2 linked regions of the Homo sapiens genome follow. The protein of the gene in region 1 purifies or fractionates together with the protein of each later gene. This does not show direct contact. Each region holds a gene or a part of one and is shown in the gene's direction. Other genes may lie near its edges. The genes, in order: NOX5 and RNASEH2A.

What was found.
Region 2: the proteins of NOX5 (region 1) and RNASEH2A purify together in Homo sapiens (affinity purification with mass spectrometry, with the first as the bait; one large-scale study listed by BioGRID). This does not show direct contact.

Annotation. Positions count from the first base shown.
Region 1 is NC_000015.10:69,024,684-69,028,506, forward strand, and holds part of NOX5 (NADPH oxidase 5), read left to right. Parts: intron 1-1,844; coding exon 1,845-1,968; intron 1,969-3,531; coding exon 3,532-3,682; intron 3,683-3,823. Other genes in the region: SPESP1-NOX5 readthrough, read left to right, coding at 1,845-1,968, 3,532-3,682. UniProt on the Homo sapiens protein: Calcium-dependent NADPH oxidase that catalyzes the generation of superoxide from molecular oxygen utilizing NADPH as an electron donor. May play a role in cell growth and apoptosis.
Region 2 is NC_000019.10:12,809,539-12,812,139, forward strand, and holds part of RNASEH2A (ribonuclease H2 subunit A), read left to right. Parts: intron 1-532; coding exon 533-670; intron 671-778; coding exon 779-866; intron 867-2,601. UniProt on the Homo sapiens protein: Catalytic subunit of RNase HII, an endonuclease that specifically degrades the RNA of RNA:DNA hybrids. Participates in DNA replication, possibly by mediating the removal of lagging-strand Okazaki fragment RNA primers during DNA replication.

The DNA of each region.
Region 1 (3,823 bases):
TAAACTTTATCATAAGTATGTATTATATAGGAAACACATAGTCTATATAGGGTTTGCTACTATTTGCAGTTTCAGGCATCCACTAAGGGGCTTAAAAAGTATCCCCCCACAGATAAGGGAGAAGTATTATATGCATACATCTGTAAAACCATTTCCATAATTGAAATAAATGTATCATTTTGACTTTTTTTGGTTTTCTAATACCTTAATTTCTGACTTTATATTTAGTAGTATGTACTTACATGTGTGTGATATGTATTTCATTCTTTGTCTAGTTGCTTATGTGAAAACTATTACATTTATTTTTAATATTTATTTAGTCTTTAAAAATAAAATCAATTCTCATTTATGTTCTATAAAGTCACTGCAAACGCTGAATTAGCGAATTCAGAACCATTGTTCTTAGAAGGAAATATAGAGTTAGGCTCATGTGAGCCTCAGGGCACAATATTTTTGTCAAACGATCAATAAGTTGCCTTGTTTTATGTGTGTTTCTATTTAAAGACACCTTTAAAATATGTATTGTTGATTCGTTGACATTGAACTCATGGCCAACAGCACTGTCACTTGTTCCTGAATGAAGCTTTCCTAACACGTATTTCCTCCATACTGCACAGTACAGCCTTTGCTCGCTTAGAAATGCTAGAGAGCACCGCAACATTATGGTTGGGAGCCGTTTTAAACAGTGAAAACACCAACAAAAAGCACAAAAATGTGAAAAATGTAGTACTAGATAGATCATGAAAAGGACACTCACTGTCTGAGAGCTGAAACAAGAAGGCAGGCATCGTCGCCTTGCTCAGCCTCAGTGGGGAGCAAGCCATTGGGTGACTCAGTTTCCACTGCTCTGTGCATGTCCACAGATGACTACGGATGGGCTGTGAGTACTGATTCAGGGGTTACACATCAATTTTAGGAAGTAGGCAGGTTTGCAAATACAAAATCCACAAAGAATGAGGATTACTGTAGCTAAGTCATTTAGGGTTATGTTACACTCATGAGCTATAGACAAGGCCATTCTCCCAGGGAGTCATTTACAGCAACAAGAATCTGTAACTCCTCACTCACTGCCTCAATTTTGGTTTCCTGGGTCCTAATGCTAGGGAAGTGTCCTAATTTCATCACTCACCTCTGTTTAGATCATAGTACAGACAGCCCATCTGTGAGGGTTTTAGACAGCCAATACCCTGGTGACATCATAGAAGACAACCTGGGCCTGAAGAGTTAAGACCTGAGGGCTGAATCCTGGCTTGATCCATCTTGTATCACAAGCATTTAAGCAGAGGGTGGAGGCTTTGGGGCAGAATGGAAAAAAACACTGGACTTGAATTTGAACTCTGTCTCTAACTTGCTGAATACATTTAGCTAAGTTACCTAATTGCTCTGAGCCTATTTCTTCTCTGCAAAATGTCCTGGCCCACCAGGCTGTCAGAGAGACCAAAGGAAGTAGTGGTGGTGGGAAATATTTGGAAAGCAGTAAAGATCTGTGTAAAGGCAAGATGGAAAGTCATTGTCATGATGTTAATTAATGCAGTCGCAGCATGCCACTCTCTGACCTGATCCCCACAGTGTGGGTCCACCTCACTCGGGCCCTGTCATTTCAGAACCTAAAGAGAAGCAAGCCTGGGCCAGCCAACTCAGGATAAGAGGAAGAGACTGAGGCATAGGGAGGAGGAGAAACGGCTGTGGGAAGCTCCAATCCACAGCCAGAACTGATTGACCCGATTCAACTCAGGGAGGCTCAGGGCCCTAGTTAGAGCAAGGCAGAGGCCCTGGGACCACCATGAGACCTCATAAGGCTTTGGCCACCCCAAGCCCATAAACCTGTTTCCTTTGCCTCCCAGCACCATGAGTGCCGAGGAGGATGCCAGGTGGCTCCGGTGGGTGACTCAGCAGTTTAAGACCATTGCAGGAGAAGATGGGGAGATCAGCCTGCAAGAATTCAAAGCAGCTCTGCATGTGAAAGAGGCAAGTGTTGGGCCAAGGTGGAAGCCCTGCATTTATCGTTATGTGGCCTGGTTCTCAGGGCATAGCCCTTACAGGGAGGGAAAGGGAACTCCCTGGGGTTCCTGAGGTCTCCACCTTGTAGCGGGCTGGCGGGATGTTTATGGCACCCTCCCATTCCTCTTAATAGTCATGGCCTCCTGGGTCTTCAACACATGAAGTTGGAAGTCAGTAGCTTGTCAAATCTTAAGCAATATGATTAACCTCACAATTTCCACTAGGCTCATGGGCAGAGCTGATGCTCTGACTTAAGCTTCCTCTCAAGATAAGCTTGTCAATGGTCTATACCTATTAAAGTCCTGTCTGCTGTGGCACACTGTTCCCAGTCCTCCAGACTCCATAGCTACCCTGCCCACCCCACACAGCCTGCATGCCCTGACACACAGAGGAGACATCAGCACGGAAGGGAGGACTGAGTCTGAAATGCCAGCCTCTCCTAGCTGTCCTTGGGACTGGCATTGAATAGTGGCCTGGTCCTTGACAGGGACTAGCCGATGAGCATCTGAATGCCCTGCTTGAATCAGAAGGACCCTCCCCTGCTGGTCCTGGGGATACTACTAAGAACTCTAACGCCACGCCTCCTTTCACAGCAAATATGGGGAAGGAAAAAATCCCATTCTCCCTAATGATACAATCCCATCCAAATGGGAGGGTGTAAAACATCTTAAGACAAAGAGCATTCGGGATGGTAGAGAGTGATAAAGGTACTACCCAGGGATCCTGGGGATGAAGAAGAAAGCCAAGGCAAGGTGGCAGTTTTGTCAGTCCACAGCGGACTTCGGCCTATACCTCATACTTGTGAACCCCTCATAGTTTTATTAAGTCAGACACTAGAGCTCCACAGGGTCCTCCCCCTGCCTTGAGGGGAGCATCCCAGGACACAGCATCTTTGGGACACCCATCATCCAAGCCTGTCTTCTTAATTTCTGTGCTCCCAGGGTCTAACACCAGGCCTGGCAGGCAGAGGCTACACAGTACAAGACTGCTCAGTGAATGAATGAGTGAACTGGTGATTAAGAACAAGCCTTAAGTATAAAATGTAGGCAGCCTTAAGAACAAGCAAAAGAAAGGACTCAGATCTTCCAGTGGAATCTATAAGTCCTTCCCAGATTCACTCATCCCTTGCGCTCACCCCAAGTGGGGTGAGACAGGGCTGGAAGGAGCCTGCAGGAGGACCCTCTGTCTGACCCTTTCCCATGTTGGTTAAGGGGCCACCCAGAGGCTGGGATTTAAAGGCTGATGGGGGTGATTGTATGTAGGGGACAGAGAGCCCATGCAAATTACAAAGTCCAGTGCCTGAAGGGGGCCTGAAGTCCAAACCAAGCCCATCCTTACTGCAGGGATCGGAACAGGTCTTCCATTAGAGCAGATCACGATGGGTGTTCAGGCACCTGAGTTCTGCCTGAATACCGCCACTCTGTGGTGCACCCCCCCACCACCACCCCAGACACAGGGAGACAGTGAACAAATTCAAAGCCCAGGCCCTGCGGCCACAGTTGTGCTGTCTTCCACCCTTCTCGCCCACAGTCCTTCTTTGCAGAGCGATTCTTTGCCCTATTTGACTCCGATAGAAGTGGCACCATCACCCTCCAGGAGCTGCAGGAGGCACTGACCCTGCTCATCCATGGCAGCCCCATGGACAAACTCAAATTCCTCTTCCAGGTGTATGACATCGATGGTAAGGGCTCTTCCTGGGTGTGGGCTGGGGTGGGGAGATCAGTGGGCCTCAGTGAGAACTGGCCATTTCACCTTGGCAGGCCTGGAGGTGCCATCCCGGCCTCCTGAGCCCAGCCTGGGACTGGTTTCTCCAGGTGAGGCT
Region 2 (2,601 bases), on another chromosome or scaffold:
TATGTTGCCCAGGTTGGTCTCAACCACCTGCCCTCAAGCGATCCTCCCACTTCGGCTTCCTAAAGTGTTGGGATTACAGGCTTGTGCTAACGCACTCTACCAATTTTTTTCTAGTGTTTTCTGCCACCTCAGTTCCTAGAACAGTATGTGGCATGCAGTAGGTGCTAAATAAGTTAGAGTAAAAGCAGCGTGATAGAGAAAGCCTCTTCAGGAGGTGAGTTTTTTCTTTATTTTATTGTATTTATTTTATGTTTTTATAAAGATGGGGTCTCACTGTGTTGCCAAGCCTGGCCTCAAACTCCCAGGATCAAGCGATCCTCCCGCCTCAGCCTCCCAAAGTGCTGGGATCACAGGCCTGAACAACTTTGCCTGGTCTAGGAGGAGATGTTCGAGTTGAAATCCCTGATTGATCCATCCTGGGGACGTGCTGGAGAAGAGGATTCTGGGTAGCAGGAAGAACGTGCCAGGGCTGTGAGGCTAGAGCATTGGTACAGTTGTTTGTTCAATTAATATGTGTCTGTTGCTGTGGCAGGTATTCGTGGACACCGTAGGGATGCCAGAGACATACCAGGCGCGGCTGCAGCAAAGTTTTCCCGGGATTGAGGTGACGGTCAAGGCCAAAGCAGATGCCCTCTACCCGGTGGTTAGTGCTGCCAGCATCTGTGCCAAGGTCAGTACCCTACTAGCCATGGCTGGCTTCCACCATCCCACTATATAGGGGCCAGGCATGGCCACCAAAGGGAAGGAGGGAGATTCCAGGTGCCTGTTTTGCCCACAGGTGGCCCGGGACCAGGCCGTGAAGAAATGGCAGTTCGTGGAGAAACTGCAGGACTTGGATACTGATTATGGCTCAGGCTACCCCAATGGTGAGCAGACACGTGACCATGGTACTAATGTTGAAATGGCCAGGGCTGAGCACACTTCTGAGGTTTTCTTTTTTTCCTTTCTGTCATTTATCATTTTATTTTGCTTATTTTTTGTTTTTATTTGTTATTTTTGTTTATTTTTTGAGACGGAGTTTCGCTCTTTTTGCCCAGGCTGGAGTGTAATGGTGCGATCTCGGCTCACCGCAACCTCCACCTCCTGGCTTCAAGCGATTCTCCTGCCTCAGCCTCGCGAGTAGCTGGGATTACAGGCATGTGCCACCACACCCAGCTAATTTTGTGTTTTTAGTAGAGACTAGTTTTCTCCATGTTGGTCAGGCTGGTCTTGAACTCCTGACCTCAGGTGATCTGCCTGGCTCAGCCTCCCAAAGTGCTGGGATTACAGGCATGAGCCACCGTGCCCAGCCTATTTTTTGTTTTTATAGAGATGGGGTCTTGTCATGTTGCCCAGGCTGGTCTCAAATTCCTGGAGTCAAGCAGTCCTCCCACCTTGGTCTTTCAAAGTGCTGGGATTACAGCCATGAGCCACCACCCCTGGCCCTTTTTTTCTTCTTTTTTTAAAGAGATGGGGTCTCCCTATGTTGCCCAGCCTGGTCTTGAATTCCTGGGCTTAAGTGATCCTCCTGCCTTGGACTCCCAAATAGCTAGGATTACAGGTGTGAACTACTGTGCCTGGCTGGAGGTTTTCTAAATTGCTCTGGTCACCCTACTCCACAGTGAAAGAGGCCAAGTGTTAGACAGTGGTGCCATTTGTTTATGGCCACACAGCCAGTGAGTGATAGAGCTGAATTCCAGGCCATAGGATTGCTGCTGTCTTCCCCGCTTCCCACTTTGCTGTCTTTCTGGAGCCCCAGTGATGGACTGAGACCCAAGGTGGGCATTTGTCCCTTTGTTAAGGGGAAGGGGACCAGGCGTGGTGGCTCATGCCTGTAATCCCAGCACTTTGGGAAGCTGAGGTAGGAGAACCGCTTGAGTCCTCGAGTTCAAGACCAGCCTGGGCAACATAGCGAGACCCCCATCTCTATAAAAAATTTAAAAAATTAGCCGGTTATAGTGGTGCCCACCTGTAGTCCCAGCTACTCTGGAGGAGGAGGCTAAGGTGGGTGGGTTGCTTGAGCCCAGGAGTTGGAGGCTGCAGTGAGCTATGATTATGCCACTGCACTCCAGCCTTGGTGACAAGATGAGATCTTGTGTCAAAAAAAAAAATAATGTTAGCCAGGCGTGGTGGCTCACACCTGTAATCCCAGGACTTTGGGAGGCTGAGGCAGGTGGATCCTTTGAGGTCAGGAGTTCTAGACCAGCCTGACCAACGTGGTGAAACCCCATCTCTACTAAAAATACAAAATTAGCTGGACGTGGTGGCACACGCCCGTAATCCCAGCAACTCGGGAGGCTGAGGCAGGAGAATTACTTAAACCTGGGAGGTGGAGGTTGCAGTGAGCCGAGATCGCATAATTGCACTCCAGCCTGGGAAATGAGCAAAATTCCATCTCAAAATAATAATAATAATAATAATAATAATATTTAATGACAGGCTGGGCCAGGTGGCTCATGCCCGTAATCCTAGCATTTTAAGAGACAGAGGCAGGTAGATCATGTGAACTCAGGAATTCACAACCAGCCTGGGCAATATGACAAGACCCCATCTCTACAAAAAATACAAAAATTAGGTGTGGTGGTGCGCACCTGTAGTCCCAGCTACTTGGGAGGCTGAGGT